Linked DNA regions of Homo sapiens. The protein of the gene in region 2 interacts with the protein of the main gene of each other region in a biochemical or structural test. Each region holds a gene or a part of one and is shown on either strand. Other genes may lie near its edges.

Region 1 (8,212 bases), on a different chromosome or scaffold from region 2:
GCTGGGACTACAAGCCCATGCCACCACACCCAACCATTTATTTATACCATGACCTTCCCTGCATCCAGTCATTTAATCCTTACGACACTTATTATTATACCCCTTGTACAGATGAGAAAACCAAGGCCTGGAGAGCTGAGATAACTTGTCCAGGATAAAAATGTCCAACATGAACTTGAGTTTCCCTCACACATCACACATCTGTTCTGAAGGCATAAAGAACTGCATGGGGTGTTTTCCAAATGTGTTTAACATGGAACCCTTTGTTTTTTGAGACAGAGTCTCTCTCTTTCACCCAGGCTGGAGTGCAGTGGTGCAATCTCGGCTCACTGCAACCTCCGCCTCACAGGTTCAACAATTCTCCTGCCTCAGCCTCCCAAGTAGCTGGGACTACAGACGTGTGCCATCATTCCCGGCTAATTTTTGGATTTTTAGTAGAGACGGGGATTCATCGTGTTGGCCAGGCTTGGAACCCTTTCTTATCTAATCTCCAAGCTTGTGTTCTGCTTTTATTTCTGCACAGCCTTCTCACACCTGTGCCTTGGAGTTGCCAGAACTATCCCTTCCTCTGAGCCATCACTACTCCCACGGGGCCACTGCATACCTGATCTTGTCAGTTCCCAACACTGTCCGTGGCTCCCCAGTACCCTTGGATCCATAACCAGGGGCCTGAAGGGCCTTCCTCAGTCTGACCAGCCTCCCTTATCTCCCACCGCCACCCCGGGGACCTGCATCTTATTCTCTGAGAACTCCCTGCTGGTCCACACTCCGAGCCTTTGCCCACTGCCCACACATCTCTTCTCCGTGTCAAACTTCCATGCATCCTTCCAGACTCAAATCTTTCCACCTGTGGGATCTCTTCCCTCCCTGGAAGATTTCAAGAATTTCTTTCCCCAGGCCCCGCTGGCCAGCTTCCCTATGATCTGGTTTCCTGCCCATCCCCCTCTGCCCCATATCCATCCCCTGCCGTCTCCTCTACACCCTGAGCGCCCAGCCCAGCACCTGATAGGTATCATACCGTCAAGAGTCCCCAGAGCTCATGAATCTTGTAGAACTCTGCTCCCATTTCCTTCAGCCCTTCTCCTCTTTTTAGGGGAGTGGAACAGGGAACAGATTGAACTTGACCCTCACGGTAGAGGCAGCCACTGCCGTGTGTCACACAGCAGAGGGAGCTGGGTCAACAAGAACAGAACTGGGTGAGTCAGGGCACTGGGAGCTCACCAACACCCCTCATCAGAAGTTTGCTTTGCTGTCTTCAAAATGGGATAATTTCTACTCTGATTCCTGGCCAGGGGATAATGGATAACGTTAATATTATTCATCAAAATATACCACCGCCAATCACACCAGCAGCGAGCAACCGTTTCGCATGTATCACGCGCCCCGTGCCACGCGAAGAATTCTGTGGTCACTACAGCTTTTACGCCTCCCAGCAACCTTGCAAAGAGGTAACGGGGGGTCTCCATCACTGGAGCAGTGCCCTACACATAGCAAGTGCCCCTGCCCCACAAACATTCGCAAAACAGATAAGTCTGTGAATGAACGCCTTCTTTTATAGAAGGGGAAACAGAAGCTCAGATAATTGGGATAATTCGCATTCTGGTGCAGCTGGACTTCACATTCAATTCTGACACTCCACGTTGAGTTCTCTACAGCCTGGTAACCTTGGAAGTGAGGAGCTGGGGCTGTCCTGGCTGTCCAATGCCCAATCTCTTTCTTCCTCAAGCAAATATCTGCAGGGAGGTAGACCCCAGAGTGGGAAATGCATGCATGGAACGACGCAGACAGAGACTGTCTGGGAGAAAGAGGGACAGGCTGGGGCGGAACCAGGAGACGGACAGCTGTCACTGAGACCCACACCCAGAACAGGTTGATCTGGGAAGGCCAGGGAGAGGGGGGATGGGCTGTGCCAACACCAGTGGGCAGAACCAGTGGGAGAAAAGGATGTACCCCCACAGCTCCCCGCTGGAAAGCCCAGACCTTAATTAACCCCTGTCTTCTCTGGCCAGGCCCTGACTCCTAGCTCTGGCCTGGGGTTGTGAAGCTGCCCAAAGCCGAGACTGAGTGTTTCCAGGGCCTCTAATCCCGGGGACCCGGGATTACGGCATCCTCCCCATTAGGGTGGCTCGGGCTCTCAGGCAAGCGGGCCTGGGGGAGGGAGTGAAGGATCTGCTCTAATGGGAGAAGGCCCCGCAGCCGGGAGGAGCGGGGGGCCCACCCCAGGCGATCTTGTACTACCCATTTCCCTTCAGCTGGGCTCGCCAACCTCCCCAGTAAAATGGGGCCATAAGTCGCAGCTGCCAGGCGCTGGAGGGGGCTATGGAGGCGAAAGGGGGTTCCCAGAGCTCCCCGGTCGCCGCCCGCAGCGCGGCCAGGGCCGACGCGGGGTGTGTGTTGGGGCCTGGGGGTCGTGCGGTGGTGGAGACCGGAGCGCTCGAGACCCCCCAGCGAGGTCGGGGTCTGGGTCTCCAGGGTGTGTGGCGGGGGAAGAGACCGAGAGGAGATCCTCGCAGGGGCGTGATGTGTGTAAAAGAGAAGAAGGCGTGCAAGGGAAGGCCTTGGGGGTGCGGGAGGCGGGAACGAGAGGTCCGCACGGGGAGACCCCACCCGGCCCGCAGACCCCGCCCGGCTCACCTGGAGGCTTGGACGCCGGGGACCCCCGCGCGGAGCTGGGCCGCGGGCCCCACCCCCACCGCGCTCCCGCAGCCGGCGGGGCAAAGTCCACCGCCCGGGCCGAGCAGGAAGCTCGGAGGCCCCGGCGCGGCAGGGGCCCGAGCCCGGGGACCCCCGGCGGCCGGCGCTATTGTTCCCACGGCCCCCTGCCTTCCCGGCCCGGCGCCCCGCCCCCCCCCAGCACCTGCCGCGCCCGGCCCGCCGCCCCCGACCCCGGTCCCCCGAGCCCCGGTACCTGCGCCCCCGAACGCGGCCCGCAGCACCCACGCCAGGCTGGCCGCCGCCTTGGCCCGCGAGAAATCGTACTGGTCCAGCGACTTGATCTCGGGCACTAGAAAGGTCCTCCGCAGCGGCCCGGGCCCGGGGGGCGCCGCCTCCACCATGGCGGCGCCGGGGCTGCGGGCGCCGGGTCCGCGCTCGGACTGGGCTGGGCTGGGCTGCGCCGCGCTCGCGCCCCAGCCGGGCCCGCTGCTGCTACCGCCGCTGCCGCCGCCGCCGCCGCCGCCGCTGCTGAGCCAGGTGCGGCCGCTTGCGCTGGCGACGCTGCGTCGGGCCCGCCCCGGGGAGGAGCCCAGGTGCGCCCCGCCCCCGAACCCGGACCCGGACCCTGGCGCGCCCCTGCGCCCCGCCCGGGCCCCTCACTGCAGTGTGCACGGAGCAGCAGGGGCGGGGCGGAGGGGGGCGGCCTGGACTGCGGCGATGGTGGAGGGAGCTTGCGGAGGACTGAGTGTGTATGTGTGCGCGCGCGCGTGTGTGAGTGTGTGCGCGCGCGCCTAGCTTACTGGAAAGGATTAGGGACCCTCTGTGTGTGCCAGCCCCAGTGTCTACCCTTAGGCGTAGGAGCTCCTGCAAGTGCTTGCAATAAACGCCGGCCCTCAGGCAGAGAGTGGTTGGGTGCACCTGTTTCTGATTATGTTAGTGAAGGCACAAGAATATGAGTGTCTTCGTATCTGTGTATCTCTGAATACATTTGGGTGGTGACCAAGTGTATTGGGGGGTGTCTAGGGGTGTGTGTGTGTGGGGTATGTATCTGGGCACGTGTAAGTGTGTGTTTAATTTGTTGTGTGTACAAGGATATGTATTATATAGATGTCTGTATCCTGAGGATGGATGGAAGTGATGAGTGTGTGTCTGTTTTTTGTTTTTGTTTTTGTTTTTGTTTTTGAGACAGGGTCTCACTCACTCTGTCTCCCAGGCTGGAGTGCAGTGGCGCGATCTCGACTCACTGCAACCTCCGCCTCCCAGGCTCAAGCGATTCTCCTGCCTCAGCCTCCCGAGTAGCTGGGATTACGGGGTTGCGCCACCACTCCCGGCTAATTTTTGTATTTTTAGTAGAGTTGGGGTTTCACCATGTTAGCCAGGCTAGTCTCAAACTCCTGACCTCAGGTGATCACCCGCCTCAGCCTCCCAAAGTGCTGGGATTACAGGCGGCAGCCACCGTGCCCGGCTGTGTGTGTGTTTTTGGAGTGCTGTGAGTATGTCTATCTCTGTGCATCTGAACGTACTGGTGTGTTGTATGAGGCTGTTATTGATGCCTCTGTCAATGCAGGAGTATGGAGAGACATTGAGAGTGTGTGTATTTCAGGCCGAGAGCGGTGGCCACGAGTGTAATCCCAGCACTTTGGGAGGCCAAGGCGGGCAGATCACTTGAGGCCAGGAGTTCAAGAGTAGCCTGGCCAACATAGCAAAACCCCGTCTCTACTAAAAATAAAATTTTTAAAAATTAGCCGGGCATAATGGTGCATGCCTGTAATCCCAAGTACTCGGGAGGCTGAGGCGGGAGAATCGCTTGAACCAGGGAGGCAGAAGCTGAGATAGTGCCACTGCACTCCAGCTTGGCCAACAGAGTGAGACCCTGTCTCAAAAAAAAAAAAAAAGTGTGTATATTTCTGCAAGAGTGTGACTATTTGTGTCTATGAGTGTCCTTGCGTAGCTGTACTGGGTGTATTTGCAAGTGTCTTTGTGTATTATTCTGGTATCTGCAGTGTGTGCTGGGAGAAGGCTCTGTGTGGAGGTGAGGCTGTGTGTCTAAGTGGGTTTGTATTTGAGTATGTGAATCTGGCTATATGCACATGGATGTGTGATTGATTGATTGATTGATTTTTTGAGACGGAGTCTCGCTCTATCGCTCAGGCTGGAGTGCAGTGGTGCGATCTTGGCTCACTGCAAGCTCTGCCTCCTGGGTTCATGCCATTCTCCTGCCTCAGCCTCCCGAGTAGCTGGGACTACAGGCACCCGCCACCACGCCCGGCTGGTTTTTTGTATTTTTTTTTAAGTAGAGACCGGGTTTCACCATGTTAGCCAGGATGGTCTCGATCTCCTGACCTCGTGATCCGCCCAACTCGGCCTCCTGAAGTGCTGGGATTACAGGCTTGAGGCACCGCGCCCAGCAGATGTGTGATTTATGATGAGCAGTTCCTGACTATATTTTTGTGCATATATGTGTGTTTATATGTGAGTATCTTTGTGGATTTGAATATATGGTGGGTGCCTGTGACAGATTGTGTAGGCATGAAAGCAGGTATACCTGTGCAAGAATGCCTGTTTCTGCTGGGTGCAGTGGCTCATGCCTGTAATCCCAGTGCTTTGGGAGGCTGAGGCGGGTGGATCACCTGAGGTCAGGAGTTCAAAACCAGCCTGGCCAACATGGTGAAACCCCATCTCTACTAAAAATACAAAAGTTAGCCGGGCGTGGTTGCCCACACCTATAATTGCAGCTACTTGGGAGGCTGAGGCAGGAGAATCGCTTGAACCCAGGAGGCAGAGGTTGCAGCAAGCTAGGATTGCACCACTGTACTCCAGCATGGGCGACAGAGTGAGACTCCGTCACATTAAAAAAAAAAAAAAGAATGCCTGTGTCTGAATGCTTTTGTGAGAGTTCAAATGTGCATATTTATCTAGGAATTCATATCTGTGTAAGCAAATGTATTTCTGTGTATGAATCTGATTGTGTCTGTAAGTATGGAAGTGTGTGTGAACGCGTTGAGTACAAATATTTGTGTACATGAGTGCAATTGTGTGTTTATTTGTAAGGTCTAAGCACCGATTTGTGGATTTTTGGTTTTTTTTTTTCTGTTTGTTTTTTTTTTTTTTTTTGAGACCGAGTCTCGCTCTGTCACCCAGGCTGGAGTGCAGTGGTGCAATCTTAGCTCACTGCAAGCTCCGCCTCCCGGGTTCGCGCCATTCTCCTGCCTTAGCCTCCCCAGTAGCTGGAACTACAGGCGCCGGCCACCATGCCCAGCTAATATTTTGTATTTTTAGTAGAGACGGGGTTTCATTGTGTTAGTCAGGATGGTCTTGATCTCCTGACCTCAGGTGATCCACCCGCCTCGGCCTCCCAAAGTGCTGGGATTACAGGCATGAGCCACCGCGCCCAGCCGGATGTTTTTAATATTTTAATATTTGCTTTTGTTCTATTGTTTGTTTTGTTGTTGTTGTTTTATTTTTTTTTTGGACAGGATCTCACTCTGTCACCCCAGGCTTGAGTGCAGTGGCACAATCATGGCTCACTGCAGCCACCATCCCTGGCTAATTTTTTGTTTTGTGTAGAGATGGGATCTCCTTATATTGCCCAGGCTGATCTCAAACTCCTAGGCTCAAGGGATCCTCCCACCTCGGCCTCCCAAAGTGCTGGGATTACAGGCATGTGCCACTGTGCTTGGCCCTCCATTGTATTTTTGTCAAAATATCCCCTGCATGCCTCTTAGCTGTATATAATTGTGAATGCACAAGTGTTTGTGTGAGTTCGTTCTTTACAGGCCTGGAAAGAAAAGTGTGTTACTTTCGGCCAGGCACGGTGGCTGAAGCCTGTAATCCCAGCACTTTGGGAGGCCGAGGCAGGTGGATCACTTGAAGTCAGGAGTTCAAGACCAGCCTGACCAACATGGTGAAACCCTGTCTCTACTAAAAATACAAAAATTAGCCAGGCATGGTGGCACATGCCTGTAATCCCAGCTACTTGGGAGGCTGAGGCAGGAGAAGCGCTTGAACCCAGGAGGCAGAGGTTGAAGTGAGCTGAGATCTTGCCACTGCACTCCAGCCTGGGTGACAGAGCCAGACTCTGTCTCAAAAAAAAAAAAAAAAGAAAAGAAAAACGTGTGTTACTTTCAGAACACACACACACACACACACATACATAGGCACCTTGTCACCTTGTGAACAGGAATAAGTGCTCACAGACTCACACAAATATTCACAAATTCACACAAATGTAAATGTCAGCTTCATGCACACAAATGCACTCAGAAAGTGATACGTAAAAAGATAACATACAGGCCGGGCACAGTGGCTCACTCCTGTAATCCCAGCACTTTGGGAGGCTGAGGCAGGTGCATCACCTGAGGTCAGGAATTCGAGACCAGCCTGGCCAACATTGTGAAACCCCATCTCTACTAAAAATACAAAAATTCCCTGTGTGTGGTGGCTGGCGCCTGTGATCCCAGCTACTCAGGAGGCTGAGGCAGAAGAATTGCTTGAACCCAGGAGGCAGAGGTTGCAGTGAGCTGAGATCGTGCCACTGCACTTTAGCCTGGGCGAAAGAGCAGGACTCCATCTCAAAAAGAAAAAAAAAAAAAAAAGACCGGGCCCAGTGGCTCACGCCTGTAATCCCAGCACCTTGGGAGGCTGAGGTGGGCGGATCACCTGAGGTCCGGAGTTCAAGACCAGCCTGACCAACATGGAGAAACCCATCTCTACTAAAAATAAAAAAAAAATTAGCCAGAGGTGGTGGTGCATGCCTGTAATCCCAGCTACTTGGGGGGCTGAGGCAGGAGAATTGCTTGAAACCAGAAGGCAGAGATTGCGGTGAGCTGAGATTGCACCACTGCACTCCAGCCTGGGCAACAAGAGCGAAACTCCGTCTCAAAAAAAAAAATAAATAAATAAATAAATAAATAAATTCCAACACTTTGGGAGGCCAAGGTGGGCAGATCACCTGAGGTCTGGAGTTCAAGACCAACCTGACCAACATTGAGAAACCCCATCTCTACTAAAAACACAAAATTAGCCAGGCATGGTGTCGCATGCCTGTAATCCCAGCTATTCAGGAGGCTGAGGCAGGAGAATCGCTTGAACCTGGGAGGTGGAGGTTGCGGTGAGCCAAAATCGCACCATTGCACTCCAGCCTGGGCAATGAGAGCAAAAAAACTCCGTCTCATAAAAAAAAACAAAAACAAAACGCTATGAAATGGAAAGACGCTGTGGCAAGGTGGTCTCCAAGACCCTTGACCCCGGATGGTGGCCCCAGAGCTAGCTCTTTGTTGAAATGGCACGTGTGTTTGGGGCGTGGGTCTCATGGTCCGGAGCATGTGAGCAGGCATGGGGGTGGGTGTGCCGAGGGAGGGGAGCTGGGGCGTGGGCCCTCCTGTCTGGATGTGCCCGTGCAGGAGTGGGTGTGGGTGCGCAAAGGGGCCAGTGTCTGTGTGTGTGAGCACAGGTGCTGATGTGGATGACGCATGCCCCGGCTCCTGTCCCAGTCCCCTCGAAGGACCTAAACAAGGTCTTTTCCCCACTGGACCTCAGTTTCCCCATCTGGAGACCT
Region 2 (7,607 bases):
GTCTCAAAAAACAAAACAAAACTGGAATGTGGGTCTTTATTCATCTTTTTTTTTTTTCTTTGGACACAGGGTCTTGCTTTGTCGCCCAGGCTGGGGTGCAGTGGCACAATCATGGCTCACTGCAGCCTCAAACTCCTGGGCTCAAGCGATCCTCCTGCCTCAGCTTCCTGAGCAGGTGGGAACCACCATGCCCGGCTAATTTTTAAAATTTTTTTCATGGATATGAGGTCTTGCAATGTTACCCAGGCCAGTCAAACTCCTGGGCTCAAGTGATCTCCCACTTGGCCTCCCAAAGTGCTGAGATTACAGGCGTGAGCCACCACCAAGATATTGATCTGTCTTAATTCAGCATAAAAACTTCACGTCAGAGGATCACTTGAGCCCAGGAGTTTCAGGCTGCAGTAAGCTGTGACTGCGCCTCTACTCTCCAGTCTAGGCAACAGAGCGAGACTGTGTCTCAAAAAACAAAACCAAAAAACTTCATACTAGAAGTTTATGCTTACAAAAACCTATGCTTCCATGATAATTCATACCTGCACACGTTGGTAATGTCCGCACCTGAATAACCTTCCATGTTTTCTGCTATACTTGCAAGGTCAACATCATCAGCCAATTCCAACTCACGTAGACTTATTCGTAATAGCTCCTCCCTGCCTTTTGCTAATGGTAGAAACAAATTTTAAAATGTAAGCCTGCAGCATAAACATAGTATACTATTGTCTCAAATCTTCTTTGTGTGAGATGTTGTCTTCCAGTAAGAATTGGATCTCTAAGAAGAGATAATTAAGTAAAGAGCCATTCTTTACTTTTTAATTCCTTACTATTTAGTATTAAGGCATATAGCCAAACTAGTACTGTAAAGGAAGATACTCCTCATGTATCTCTTCCAGAAAGTTAGTTAATAACAAATTTTAAATTCTCTAAACAAAACTACATGAAAGTTAACAGGCTTTCTGACAAGATTGAAAGGAAGATACCTGACGGCAAAGGAATATAGATTCGTTTCTCAAGGCGTCGTCTTAAAGCCTCATCTATATCCCAGGGAAAATTAGTAGCTGCCAGAACCATAACCATTTTGGAAGGGTCATCATTTTCAGAAGTACCTCCAACACCTAAAATAAGGGTAAGGGGAGAGTGAAAAAGATATTAAGTTGGATTATACCAAATGAAGCTCAGCTATTTAAAGATCAACAACTATTTAGTACAACAATACAAGGAAGCACAGTCTTAATGCCTCCTTAAGACTTAGGTTAACTGGTACCTATGTGAATTTGTAATCCAAAGAAAATGAGTTCTGTAGTATGCAAATATATGACTCAAAATAGATTTAATCGAAAAGCCAGATCTCAAATACATAACAATTTTAAATCTTTTTCAAAGCGTACATAAACTCTAAGGCCAATTTATCTGCATTTATTTTTATTTCAATTTCATAGCTAAAGTAAGATAGTTGTATATACCAAAAGGGTGCCCTGTGTGTGGCCATTAATTCTGACTTGTCACCACTGTCAGTGTACCAAATCTATTACTATCACTATCAGGAACTTCTTGCCACCCCCTCTAGTCCATCTGAAGTTAAGAATACCTATTAAAAGCTTGGGTTAGCACTATGAGTAAAGTTTGACCCACTGGAACTGGAGACACCACACCTAACAACCTCCCGTCCCTGTTCAACTCAAGCTAAACACAGATACCATCCATCTGAACCAGCAGCTCCGCTTTCACCCTTCTGCTTGCTTCATGTTCTTCAGAAGTCCCTCGGCGACTACAGATGGAGTCTATCTCATCAATAAATATGGTGGCTGGAGAATAAAATCGAGCCTAAAGGAAGAAACCATGCAATATCAAGCTATTAAGCTATTATTTCATTTTAAAATAATCTACAGATTAGCAATCAGAAAATAGCTGAGGGAGGCTGGGCACAGTGGCTCACACCTGTAATCCCAACACTGGGAGGGTGAGGCAGGAGGATGGATTGAGCCCAAGAGTTCGAGACCAGCCTGGGCAACATAGCAAGACTCCATCTCTACAGAAAATTAAAATATTAGTTGAGTGTGGTTACACGTGTCTGAGTCCCAGCTACTCAGGAGGCTAGGTGAGAGGATCCCTTGAGCCCAGGAGTTCAAGGCTGCAGTGAGCTATGATCACACCACACCACTGTATTCCAGACTGGGTGACAGAGTGAGAACCTGTCTCTAAAACAAGAGGAAAGAAAGAAAACAACAAAACAGCTAAGGAGCCTGCCACACTGTGCATCTTTCTCTCACGCTAATACTGGGGAGATGGGATAGAATTAGAACAGCTAAAATATGGCTTCTAATGAACCGTTTTTTATTTATTTATTTTTTTTTAAGAGGCAAGGTCTTGCTCTGTCATCCAGGCTGGAGTGCAGTGATATGATTTTGGCTCACTTCAACCTTGAGCTCCTGGGCTCAAGCAATCCTCTCACCTCAACCTCCCGAGTAGCTAGGACTACAGGTGTGTGCCACCACACCAGGCTTATTTTTATATTTTTGGTAGAGATGGTGTCTTATTATGTTGCCTAGGCTGGTCTCAAACTCCTAGACTCAAGCAATCTTCCTGCCTCGGCCTCCCAAAATGCTAGGATTACAATGAGCCACTGTACCTAGTGGGATAATTTCATCTTTAAAGAGAGTCAATACTTGGGTCTTTATGTATAAATATTTTTGTACTTTTTCAACAAATGGAGAGAGGGAAAGAGTGAACTTCATCATCATTAAAACATCCAAGAAAATTCTCAACTAAAATTTTAGGAAGCATCTATCAAAAGCACCTACATCAACAAAAATTAAACTTCAGTCTGTTGCCACACCAAGCAAAAGTGACTAGACTGATTCTTCCCACATACTGAGGTTATGTAGAATGATCTGACTTCAAGGAAAGGCTATGTGTCCTGGGTTTAGCTGGCCCAGGAAGGTACGGTAGAGGACACCAATTGGTTCTCCCTGCACAGCACACTTCTGGTAAGAGAAGCCTCTTTTTCATTTGCAAATCATCCCTTTCTTTCTTTCCTCCCCTCTCCCCTCTCCCCTCTCCCTCTCTCTGTAACCTCTGCCACCCCGGTTCAAGCAATTCTCCTGCCTCAGCCTCCCAAGTAGCTGGGATTACAGGTGCACGCCACCACACCTGGCTAATTTTTGTATTTTTAGTAGAGACGGGGTTTCATCATGTTGGCCAGGCTGGTCTCGAACTCCTGACCTCAAGTGATCTGCCCGCCTCAACCTCCCAAAGTGCGGGGATTACAGGCATGAGCCACCATGCCGGGCCCCTCTCATTCCTATTCCACTACTTCAAAAGAGGCTAACTTTACTTGGAACTCCAGGGGTTTTATTCAGACCTGGCCAATCAGAGCACTCCAATTCTCTGACCAAAAACAAGGAGTTTCGGCATAGGTATGAAACTCAAAACAGGCCAAATATTAATCTTTGGACTTTTGCTGGAACTATGACAAAATGAGGGCTAACTTTGCTGAGAGTTCATTACCCTAAGGACAATAAAAATAAGGCTTGAAAGCTGAGTGCAGTGGTACACGACTGAAGTCCCAGCTACTTGGGATGCTGAGAGAGGAGGATGCAGTATGCTATGATTGTGCCTGTGAATAACCACTGCACTACAACCTGTGCAATATAGTGAGAGCTTATCTTAAAAAAAAAAAAAAAAAAAAAAAAAAGCTGAACACAATGGCTCTTGCCTGTAATCCCGGCACTTTATGGGGTCTAGGCAAGAGGAGTGTTAGGCCAGGAGTTCTAGACTGCCTGGGCAACGTAGTGAGACTTCATCTCTACAAAAAAATCAAAAAAGGCCAGGCGCAGTGGCTCATACCTATAATCCTAACACTTTGGGAGGCCAAGGTGGGCAGATCACCTGAGGTCAGGAGTTCAAGACCAGCCTGGTCAACATGGCAAAACCTCATCTCTACTAAAAATACAAAAATTAGCCAGGCATGGTAGTGCACTTGTGTAGTCCCAGCTACTCAGGAGGCTAAGGTGGGAGGATCGCTTGAGGCTAGGAGGTGAAGGCTGCTGTGAGCCGAGATTGCAACACTGCACTCCAGCCTAGGTGACAGAATGAGACCCTGTCAAAAAAAATAGAATTCATGTCTTGACCAGGATTGGTGACCCATGCCTATAAATCTAGCACTTTGGGAGTCTGAAGCAAGAGGATCACTTGAACCCAGGAGTTCAAGATCAGCCTGGGCAACACAGCAAGACCCCATCTGTAAAAAAAAAAAAAAAAAAAAAATGAGCTGAGTGTGGTGGCTCATGTCCATCATCCCAGCTGCTTGGGAGGCTTAGATGGGAAGAGCACTTGGGCCTGGGAGGTCACGGATGCAGCGAGTTGTGATCATGCTCCTGCATACCAGCCTAGGCAAGACTGAGAACCCATTTCAAAAAAAAGAAGATTCACGTCTTTGTCACTAATAGCATAACTCTATCCTAATTACATAAAACTACTCTGTTTCTTAGAGGCAAGAGTGACGTAATCAGTGAAGCTTAACAAAGTCTGAAGTTTAAAAGGCTGTGGAATTCAATCTAAACACTCTACCAGAACTTGTTGAATTACATTTCTTCTATTGGTACTCTGATTTGTATTGGTGGAAGAAAGAACCTAATCCAAAGATTAGGTCATTAAAATGAAGGCATTTGGTGCAGTTAATAGATCGGAGGTGACCTAAGTTCCACAATAAATTATGATTCTCACCTTTTGGCATCATTGTTACAATACTGTGGTTATCATATTATAACTAAACCTATTGATTTAAAAAACATAATTTCAGATTCCTACAGAAGATTAGTAATGCAGATCCCATAATGTGAGCATGCCCCAAAACTGGTAGATTTGGATCTACATCTGGAGAAAAAGAGACAAAGAGAAACTCTAATTATTCATGTTTGTAAAGAAATCTAGCTTTAAGGGCATAGGACTCATACTCTGGGCAAAATGGCATCCTGCCTAACTATTCCATATACTGGAGATAGTTACAGCTCACTTTCTCCCCTTTTAGAGAGGTAAAGAATCATTAGAGCTGTCTCAAACATTCACCATTTCAAACAGAAGACGAACAAGCTTCTCAGATTCTCCTCTGTATTTGGAAGTCAAAGTTGATGAAGAGACATTGAAGAATGTTGTCTTGCATTCTGTAGCTACTGCTTTAGCAAGGAGCGTCTTCCCCGTGCCAGGTGGGCCGACCATCAGTACTCCCTGTTGCGAATATAATAGCCTCAGCAGAGGATTTATCTGCCATTGTTCTAATTCATAAAAGTGTCATTACTAAGTAGCAAATTTCGACCAACTTATATATAATATCAAGACAAATAAAAGACAAACAGATAAACAGGAGGATACTTTGTCACAAATTTACTCTTCCCGTTAAAAAAGAAGATAACCACATTATGAAAAATTTGGAACTCAAAGATGAGAAAAAGTAGTTTATAATATCAGCACCCTAACAGAGGTACCATTAGCATCTGGATTTATATCCTGATTGTCCTTTTGCTCAGACAAATTAGGTTGTTTAAAAATATAACTTATTCGGCCAGCCATGGTGGCTCACACCTGTAATCCCAGCACTTTGAGAGGCCGAGGCAGGCAGATCACGAGGTCAGGAGATTGGGACCATCCTGGCCAACATGGTGAAGCCCCGTTTCTACTAAAATACAAAAAAAGTTAGCTGGGCGTGGTGGTACATGCCTGTAATCCCAGCTACTCGGGAGGCTGAGGCAGCGGAATCAATTCAACCCGTTAGGCGGAGATTGCAGTGAGGCAAGATCGCACTGCACTCCAGCCTGGCGACAGAGCGAGACTCCATCTCAAAACAAAACAAACAAAATACATATATATATATAATTTATTCAAAGTATATCTATCATTTTGTATCTTGCTTATCACTTAATGTATAAAGGATTTTTACAACTATTCATACATGCAGAGTTACCTATCAGTGTGTTTTCCAAATCCAAGAAAAGCTTTTTTGATGGTCTTTTTTTAGATCAGCCCATGACTTTAAAAAGTATTTATCACATGCAGATATTTCTCATTAATTTATTGAGAACAATCCCCAAAATACAGGTTACAATCATGCAACATGACATATAAAATGGAGTGTTTTTGCATTAGCTGACTAGGTCATATTTGCAAATATGAGCTCATTCTAAATGGGGTGAATTCTAATTTTTTTTTTTTTTTTTGAGACAGAGTTTCGCTCTTGTTGCCCAGGCTGGAGTGCAATGGCGTGATCTCAGCTCACCACAACCTCCACCTCCCAGGTTCAGGCAATTCTCCTGCCTCAGCCTCCCGGATAGCTGGGATTACAGGCACGCACAACCACGCCCGGCTAGTTTTGTATTTTTAGTAGAGACGGGGTTTCTCCATGTTGGTCAGGCTGGTCTCGAACTCCTGACCTCAGGTGATCCGCCCGCCTCGGCCTCCTAAAGTGCTGGGATTACAGGCGTGAGCCACCACGCCCGGCCAAATTCTAAATTTTAATGCTGTGTATTCAACTTTCCAAAGATCACATTGTATGTATTTCTTATTCTAGGAATCATGCAACAGCTTCTGGTCTAACAAAATTCTCAGTAGCACAACATATACCTTTTAATTTAAACATTTCCTGACTCCACTTTCTCCCTCCACTTTTCCCAATATAGATAAATATTGGCTCTCTGTATCAACATGCTGCCATTTACTTTGACAATGCCATCACAGTAATAAACTTACTTTCCATGGTCTCCTAATGCCCTTAAAGAATTCGGGCATCCACATTGGTAACACTACGGCTTCCTTAAGCAACTTTTTAGCTTCTACTAAATCAGCGATATCATCCCTGAAAGAGAAGACATTTTATTAACAACCCTTTAGATGATACATGTCTATGCAGTCACTCTTGAGAACCACTGGAAGCACATGATGTTGCACTGCTGACAGAATGGTGAGCCTCTCTCTGAGCCCGGGTGAACTAATGCACTGTGATGAGGCCCACCATGTCAACCAGCAGATATATAAAGAGCACAACCTTTTCTTCAGTTATTGGCGGTTGACAGTTTTTAGCCTGGATCACGAGAACATAGTCTACAGGCACACTCTTCAGGGTTATGTGTCAACTCATTTTAAACTCCTGCTCTTATGGTCCTCATTCCATAATCTCCATGATTTAGAAACAATGAGCCCATGTATTTTAAAACTAAAAAAAAGCATAAAGAATAAAAATCGTATAAAGCAGAGACAGGCTACAACATAGCTGCTTTGCCTCCAGCTTTACTAAGAGGTAGATGCCAAGGTTAAAGAGTATCACAGAGATTACTATAAAGTCATCTCCAACCACTAGAATACCTACTACTACTGCTACATGTGGCAATTTCTGTTAAAAAAAGTATTTTCATTGTATAAAATATTAATGTCCCCAATATTTTTTAATATCATTCAAACCCATACCTAATAATCATTAAGGTTTTAACAGAAATATAAAATACCTAACTTTGTGGAAAAGTTAACTTTTATAACTCATTGTAATACATTACAGATCTTTGATTACATGTAATATTAATCAAGTTGAGAACCACTGCTCTAAAAGAAAATAAAAGCAACAT

Evidence for each region. The genes of interacting proteins can lie anywhere in the genome.
Region 1: the proteins of KATNA1 (region 2) and CAMSAP3 form a complex in vitro, tested with the Homo sapiens proteins (one study listed by BioGRID).

The regions. Positions count from the first base shown.
Region 1 is NC_000019.10:7,590,847-7,599,058, reverse strand, and holds the start of CAMSAP3 (calmodulin-regulated spectrin-associated protein 3), read right to left. Parts: upstream 3,197-8,212; 5' UTR 3,057-3,196; coding exon 2,909-3,056; intron 1-2,908. UniProt on the Homo sapiens protein: Key microtubule-organizing protein that specifically binds the minus-end of non-centrosomal microtubules and regulates their dynamics and organization.
Region 2 is NC_000006.12:149,596,530-149,604,136, forward strand, and holds part of KATNA1 (katanin p60 ATPase-containing subunit A1), read right to left. Parts: intron 6,845-7,607; coding exon 6,739-6,844; intron 5,224-6,738; coding exon 5,065-5,223; intron 1,822-5,064; coding exon 1,695-1,821; intron 1,113-1,694; coding exon 978-1,112; intron 661-977; coding exon 534-660; intron 1-533. UniProt on the Homo sapiens protein: Catalytic subunit of a complex which severs microtubules in an ATP-dependent manner. Microtubule severing may promote rapid reorganization of cellular microtubule arrays and the release of microtubules from the centrosome following nucleation.